2 separate regions of the Homo sapiens genome follow, and region 1 is linked to region 2. Evidence: fine-mapped expression QTL. A gene starts in region 2. The other region holds a variant in brackets. All regions are shown on one strand. Distances are from middle to middle.

Region 1 (4,000 bases), 47 kb before region 2:
CAAAAGTGGCTGGGATGTCCAGAGGACTAGCACCAGGTGCTTGGGCCTCAAGTCCTTCTGCTTCTTCCCTCTGGGGAGCTCTCCGCAGCTGCTCCCCAGAACACACAAATGCCCTTCCTGGCCTTTCCTGGGGCCCAAACCCCCTCAGACCTGGGTCCAGCAGACACAGACCCACCTCTCCCCAGGACCCTGGTTCCTGCCCAGTCCTGCCCCAGCTCTGCAGGTGCAGCTGTGAAAGGGCCCTGGCGCTAACACTGGGCTGCACGCCCGCTCCCTGCCCCACATTTTTCCCCTTAAACAAACATGCAAGACTTTCTTTTTCTATCCCTTTGAAAGCCTGCTCAGGGTGGACAAGACTGGGTGGGACAATGGCCTGGCACCCGAACAGGAGGGAGTGCAAGGTGAAGCCTGCCTCTTGCTGTGCCCTCTCTAGCCAGTTCTAGCCCAGCAAACCCAGGAATTAAAAAAAAAAAAAAAAAAAAAAAAAAATCCCGGCCGGGTGCCGTGGCTCAGGTCTGTAATCCCAGCACTTTGGGAGGCTGAGGTGGGCAGATCAGTTGAGGTCACAAGTTCAAGACCAGTGCGGCCAACATGGTGAAACTCTGTCTCTACTAAAAATACAAAAATTAGCCCGGCGTGGTGGCAGGTGCTTGTAATCCCAGCTACTCAGGAGGTTGAGTCAGGAGAATTGCTTGAACCCAGGAGGTGAAGATTGCAGTGAGCTGAGACTGTGCCACTGCACTTCAGCCTGGGCAACAGAATGAGACTTTGTCTCAAAAAAAAAATATCCCTCCCAGGCCTTTCCCAGTTACTGCCCATTAAGCCTGCACCCAGGTCCTCACAGCACACTGGGGGTTTACTACGCCCATTTCATAAGAGGAAATGGGTGTGGGTGCAGTGGCTCACACCTGTAATCCCAGCACTTTGGGAGGCTGAGGCGGGCGGATCACCTGAGGACAGGGGTTTGAGACAGGCCTGGCCAACATGGTGGAACCCTATCTCTACTAAAAATACAAAAAATTAACCAGGCGTGGTGGTGGGCACCTGTAATCCCAGCTACTTGGGATGCTGAGACAGGAGAATCGCTTGAACCCAGGAGGCGGAGGTTGCAGTGAGCCAAGATTGCACCATTGCACTCCAGCCTGGGCAACAAGAGTGAAACTCTGTCTCAAAAAACAAAAAGAGGAAATGGGTTTAGAGCAGGAAACATTCCATTCCATAAGAAGAAACATGCCCCAGGCTCCGGGTTGCCAGGGTCAGGGCCGGGAAGCTCCTTCTGGCACTCTGAGCTCCTTCTGGCCGGGTGCTGCCTCCACGCCCTGCGCTTCCTGTTCCCTCTACCCCGGCCACTCTTCCCTGAGCGCTTTGCTGGCCTGTCCTTCTCCGTCCCTCAGGTCTTTTTGGGTGCCATGTGCTGAGTGATCTTATTTAATCCTAATACTACCTCCTCCTGATTGATCCTATTAGTTTTCCCACTGTACAAATGAGGAAACTAAGGTGAC[G/A]TGACTTGCCCAAGTCACACAGTGAGGAAGGGACAGCGGCAGGATTCAAACCCTGGCACCCGCCACTCCAGGGTACCCATTTTTCCCACAGATTCTCTACTGCCTCCTGAACCATCAGAAGAGGCTCTGCCACTCCCCACTCCTATTGAAACCGCCTTTGCAAAATTATAACTGAGGAAATTATGACAGCGAAAGAAATCAGACCTAACTGACTCCATCTTGCTTCTAACCCTTCAACTGTCCTTGTTCATTCCTGGGTGTAGGCCAAACTAACTTTGGGAAGGGATTCAGTTCACGGTTTGACTCTGAAACAAACTGATAACAGCCCATTCCCAAAAAGACCCTCTTCTTGCCTGGGGTCCAGTATGTCTTTGCAGGACTAACAAATCAGCTACAGATTGGAAATTACAGTTTAGGAGTCATGCAGCCTCTGGCTCCAAGAGTCTGAACCTCCCCAAATTGGGGATGTCACTACTGTGAAACCTAAGATCAGTGCTTGAGATATTTTGCAGACCCTGCACTCCATGGATCAGCTGTCACCACCCAGACTGGTAATCTGGCTCAGTCAGTTCTGCCATTGCACCCAGGAACAGAAGACAGCAAGAAAAACTCACTTCAGACAGCAAGAAAAACTCACTTCGACCCCCTATGATTCCATCTCCAGCCTGACCAATCAGCACTCCCCACTTTCCAAGCTTCTACTCGCCAAATTATCTTTAAAAACTCTGATCCCCAAATGCTCGGGGAGACTGATTTGAGAAATAATAAAAGTCCGGTTTCCTGCACAACCGGCTCTCTGTGAATTACTCTTTCTCCATTGCAGTTCCCCTGTCTTGATAAATCATTCTTTCTAGGCAGCAGGCAAGGTGAACCCACTGGGCAGTTGCACTATCTTTCCCACCACCTCCCGGAAGTCAACTGCCACCTCCCTGGTGACCAGGTGCCTCCCTCCCTTGGCTGGTCCCAATGGTCCCCTTAGGCATGGGACCAGGTCCCTTTCCCTGGGGGAGGAGGCTCTGACTGAGCTTGTACAACTGACATCCCTCAGCCAGTGCTGACTTCATCCATTCACAGAGCACGATGAGCCTGCACAGCCCAGGCACTGGACCAGGCACGGAGAGAAGGATGTGAACTAGACATTGCCGACCATCATCAGGGTCAGCCAGGAACAGGCAGAGAAGGCAAGAGATCTGCTTCATATAGTGGTCAGGGAAGGCTGCTTGGGGGAGGAGGCCCTGAGGGAGGGCCTTGCAGAGTCCAGGAAGGACCTGCGGGGGAACAGCTAGGAGTGCTCGAGGAACACACGGGGGGTTAGGTGGCAGAATCATCCTAAGAGAAGGAAAGGGCTGTGCAGTCAGTGATCGGGTCGGTAAGGAAGGCAGAGGCTGGCCTCAGGGGATCCAATCTGATGGCGAAGGGTTTTTGGCAGGGCAGCGGCTGGATCTGACCCTCCAGTGGGGGAAACAAATGGTAGCTTGTGGACTGGTGGTGTGAGGAGTGGTGAAGGCAGCTGCAGGGTCCACTGAGAGACCTGTGGCCATGGGGAAGTGGGTGAATTTGGGATATTTTAGAGTCTAGTGAAATGAACACTCTAGAAGTGACTTCAGCAACCCTCTTCTTTCAATGGAGGTGGAAGATGAGAAAGGGGTGGGGGCTGGCCGAGGTCTCCCAGGAGGTAGTGGCCAGAAAGGAATTGGAGTCAAGTCTCCTCAACCCAGACCAGCATCTGGGCTGGGTGCCTGATTCCCCGTCACGGCGCTGGAGCGTGAGGAGCAGGGCTGAGTCAGGGGCTGAGAAGTCCTATGCATAGGGCATAGGTCAGTCAGGTCCCCAAGGTCAGGAGAAGGCAGAAGGGACATCAGATAACTGCCCTTAGGGCAGGGGGAGAAGACCTCTCAACTCATACTGCAGAGAGAGGCAAGGGCAGGTCATGGTGGAAATGGGGAGGTGGGCAAGGTGACCTTTGGTGACCCCACCACTGGCATCAGACCCTGCCAGTAGGGCCTGCCTGGGAGCCAGCCTGCAGCTGGGGGCGGGAGAAGGGAAGGGAGACCACGGTTGCAGATGCCTGGGATGGCTGCTTACCATATATTCCAGATGCCACGCAGCTACTTTGGCAGCCTCAGCCGGGCCAGTGAGGCTCTAGGCTTGTTGCTGAGTGTAGGGCCAGGGCCAGACAGTTCAGCAGCCCTCAGTGTAAGGCAGGGGCAGCTCTGATTGGAACTAGGTGGCTCAGAAGGGTCAGCGTTAGGGCCTCAGGGATCACTGCCTCCAGTTTTCCATCTTGTTACTCTTGTGGGAATAACCAGTACCTCGCCCTGGGGAGACATCTCCCGTTGATCACAGCCCTGCTTCCTGCTCAGCACGAATGGATTTGCTTTCTCCAGTCTGTGCTCCAGGAAGCCAGGACCAATCAAGTTGAGCTTGACTCAACTTTTACAATACGTGAAGGTAAAGCAAGGCCCAGAGGTGTCCACTAGGATTTAAAGCAAAGAGAA
Region 2 (4,000 bases):
TGAGACAACCCCACAAAGGATCCTGGATGCAGTCACCCACATCAGGCTTCTTAATATTCCCATGGATAATGACAATGACAGTTAACCAGGCACTCACCACGTACCAATAAGTGCTGGCACCCGAGTCCTTGCAATCTAATTTAATCCTACCTTTGCAGAAATACACAATTACCTGAAAAGAATATGAAGGTGTATAGATATAAAAACTGAGGACTGGGAGGAGGACCAGATGGGGTCCAGTACTTACTGTTTTACAGACATAGAAACCGAGGCTCCATTCTCAGCCATCTTCTTCCCTTATGCCCCAGTTTTTAATTCTCATGACATTCCAGAGGGAGTGTCCGTTGGAACACCACCAGAGACACCACACTTGCCACTCATGAAGTGCTCCCTACTTGCAGAACGTCTGCTCCCTGTTCCCCAGTTCCAGCCTCCCAGCCGCCCTACTGTAAGCTGGATCATGTCACAGTTTGCCTCATTTTACAGACAGAAAACCCCCCAAGTCCAAGGGGTGACAAGGCACGCAGACAGGAAGTGACGGCCGCAAAACGAACCCAAGCGTCCACATCCTTCGTCCCTGGTTCTTTCCATGGAGAAACCTGCCTGGGTGACCCCTTCCAATCCAGCTGGCTGGGGCGGTCCTGGAGCTCACCTGGACCTATGCCAGGCGGAATGCCATAAAACCACGCCTTCATGCTGTGTCCATTCTCCAGGAGGCAGGCCCCGGAACATCAGCCCATTTCACAGATGGTGACCCAGAGGGCCACAGGGGGGGAGGGTCTGGGCCAAGTTCCCTGTTGGTCATAGGTGGGGTTCAGACCCAGGTCTCCCAGGCCTCCCCATCAGGGCAGGCTGCAGCTGCCAGGGATTACAATCTGCGCACACCGCCTGTTTCCTGAAAACCATGGGCTCCCTGCAGTCCGTGAAGCTGTGGATGCCCAAGGGGCAGAAAAAGCCCCCCAACCTTTGATGACAGCACACACCTCTAAGGGAGCAAAAAACTAAGGCAGACAAAAAAAAGGGCGTTTTGTCTGGAAGATCATTCTTCCAGACCCCTTGTCCCTTCCCCCAGTACATATGGGGCAGGGGATTCAGATGCAAGATGAACACCCTATTAGCTACCAGAGCCAGCAGCATCTGTGACCTTGGGCAAATCACAGCCCCCTTTGAAGCAGCCCCTTCCCCATAGGAGAGCTTCTTGAACTCGGGGGGACGTGGAGCGAGGCTGGGGGATGGGGTGGGAAGAGCAGGGAAGAGGGTGTAAGACCCCTCTATTTTCAGAGGAGCATCGCTGTGAGAAACGGGGAATAAGAGAGGGCCTTGTTCGCCCGCTCTCTCCATGCCCACCCCCACACCCCCTTTAAACACACAGGTGCCAGACAGCTTTTTCGCAAAAACTAGTTTGCAAACACACTCCGACTTCTGGGAAGCTGCCCAGCTCCACTCCCCCTCTGCGCTCCCAGTACCGGGGCTGGGAGCCGGCCCTCCGGCAGTTGCCTGGGGCAGGGGGTGGGTGTTGAGGGGTGGGAGGAGGGCAGAGGGGAGCGGAGAGGAGCCAGCGCCCGCCGAGAGCCAGGGCGACCTCACGCCTTCAGCAGCTGCGGCAGCGGCGGGTCTCCACCTCCCGTACGCCCTCCAAGCCCCTCGGGGCGGGTGGAAGGGTCCCCAAAGCAGCTGGGCTCGGACCCCCGAGGGCGCCCCCCTCCCCAGGGACCCCGCCCGCCCTTCCCCGCAGTCCGGGAGCCGGCGGGGCGCCCCCGCGTGGCCGGGTCGGAGCTGAGTCACCGAAGCGCCGGAGTCCGGGTTCGCGCTGGCGGCGGGGGCTAGAGCGCCGCAGCCCCCCGAGGCGGAACCCGGGTTCCTTCGGACCCGCAGCTGGATCAAAGAGCCCAGCCCCAAGGCCGAAGTTGGGCACTCACGCCAAGCTGCCCCGCCTGCCCGGGCCCCACTCACCGCAGGTCCCGCGGGCGCCACCGCCCTCACCGCACGGCTGCCGCTGCCCGCGCTCCGAGCCGCCCGGGCATCCCCGGGAGCTGCTCCTGCTCGGCCGGGCCCGCGGGCGCGGGACAGGCTCAGGGCGCTGCCCGCGCGGCCACGGCCCGCTCGCGTGCGCTCCCAGCCGCTCGGGGTCCGGTCCTCCTCCCGGGCCGGGCGGGCGGGCGGCGGCGGCGGCGGCGGCTCGGGCTCCTCCCTCCGGCCGAGGAGGGGAGTGGGGAGGGAAGTGGGAGGCGAGGCGGGAGCTTCCTGGAGGGGCGCGCGCTCTCCCACGGGAGGAGCGGGGGCGCTGTCCCGCCCGCAGTCCGCCGCTCCCAGCCCGCGCCCGGCGCGCCGCGGCACTCGGGGCGCCTGGCACCGAGGGGGCCCGAACGTTCGGGCCGAACGCGAGGGTCCGAAGGTTCCAGGCTGGGACTCAGGTGGCTGAGGATCGGAACAACGCGGCTTCGCGCCCTCCCCAGGCCTGCTTTGCCCGAGCCTCTGGCACCTCCGAGTTCCGAGCGCCGTGCGCTCAGGGCCACCGACGCGGGAACAGAGGGGTGGCCTCAGCCCGGGCCTGCGGGGCCCCAGGGCCGCTTGGACCCCCAGCGCCGATGGGAGCGGCGCTGCGCCCTCGGGGCAACACCCAAGGCTGGGTTCTGGGTTGTATTGGGCAGGATTAGGGCCGCAGTGTTTTCTTCCCTTTTTTTTTTCAATAGCAAAAGAGCTCGGCATTTTCTTGCCGCCAGAGATTGGAAATATGACATATTTCTCTGACACAGACGATAAGATAAAGACGGATCCGAACTGGGCCTGGGTCTACTCATCCGTGCGGAAAATTAGGCGAGTCTTTAAGGCCTTGGAGCCCAGGCCTCCTTTTCCCTAGAAGAGGCACCAATTCTTAGGACACTTGTCTGTCGCTGGGCGCTCAAGCCTTTGGCCACTCCGCGGTATTTAGGTGCTCTCTGGGCAAGTTCACCACCGGGCATCAGAAGGCTGAGCCTCACGTAACCAGATTCTGGGGGGCGGGGCTTTCCCGGGGATCTCAAGGCCATGTCCACAGCCCTTGGCCCTGGGGCTCAAGGACTGGGCAGCTGAGGGTTAATGCCGAGTGCTTCCATTGTGGCTTTTCGATTCCAGGCAGGTGAGGGTTAATGTGGGAGCCTCGCGCGCTGCAGCCTGTGAGCCTCCCTCCACGTCTGAGTCACTGGCACTTTGCAGCCTTACAGGGGCCGAGACTAAACAGCCCCCGGGGCTCTGAGCTTTGTTCTCTGCCTGCCTGTCACCCATCCATCTTTCCTTTCTCCAAGCTCTCTTCACCTTTCTTCCACCGAAGCCAATCAAAGCCCTCTGCCCCGCTCTGGGGCAAACCAACCTATCAACCCAACTCCAGCCCCGCTTCCTCCAGGAAGACTTTCCTGATTGCTCTGGCCTCAGAATCTGTCTCTTGTCTTTCCAGCAGCAGGAGAGCCAGGCACTGGGATGGACAGTGGTGAACCAAAGCAGATAGTCTCTCTCAAGTTGCTCACCTGTGGGGGCCAAGATCAGGACCCAGGCCATCATATCACCATATGAAATGTGCAAAGATTGGAGGTAGGGTGGCACAGAAGACCCAACTCAGCCATGGGAGTCAGCGAGGCTTCCTTTAAGAAACCTGAAGGATGAGATAGTTGGGCCTGTCAAGGAAGATACTAGATCCCTAGCCAAGGAGGCAGAGTACAAAGGCCAGGGGTCACAGCAATTCCACTCCTAGATATCTACCCGGGAGAAATGAAAACATATGGCCACACAAAACATACACAAATGTACGTAGCAGCATTATTCATAATAGCCAAAAAGTGGAAACCACGCAAATGTTCATCCACTGATGAATGGAAAAACAAAATGTGGTATATCCACACAACATAGAATATTATACAGCCATAGAAAGGTACGAATTACTGGCCAGTTGTGGTGGCTCACACCTGTAATCCCAGCACTTTGGGAGGCCAAGGCGGGCGATTACTTGAGGTCGGGAATTCAAGAC

What was found. PIP is the estimated chance that this variant, and not a neighbour inherited with it, causes the effect. A credible set is the group of variants that fine-mapping cannot tell apart.
Region 1: its variant is the best candidate, but not a certain one, in a credible set for the expression of CPNE2 in sun-exposed skin (GTEx, PIP 0.90).

What each region holds. Positions count from the first base shown.
Region 1 is chr16:57,137,358-57,141,357 of GRCh38, reverse strand. The region is part of intron 14 of CPNE2 (copine 2); the gene reads right to left. Among named protein-coding and RNA genes, the nearest start is that of PSME3IP1, 47 kb to the left of the region's middle. The variant G/A (reference allele first, on the strand shown) is at 1,503.
Region 2 is chr16:57,090,744-57,094,743 of GRCh38, reverse strand. It overlaps CPNE2 (copine 2), which reads right to left and starts at 2,161. Exons shown (of 16, transcript NM_152727.6): 1 at 1,954-2,161. RefSeq lists silencers at 1,670-2,079, 2,140-2,189, 2,300-2,549, 2,570-2,639.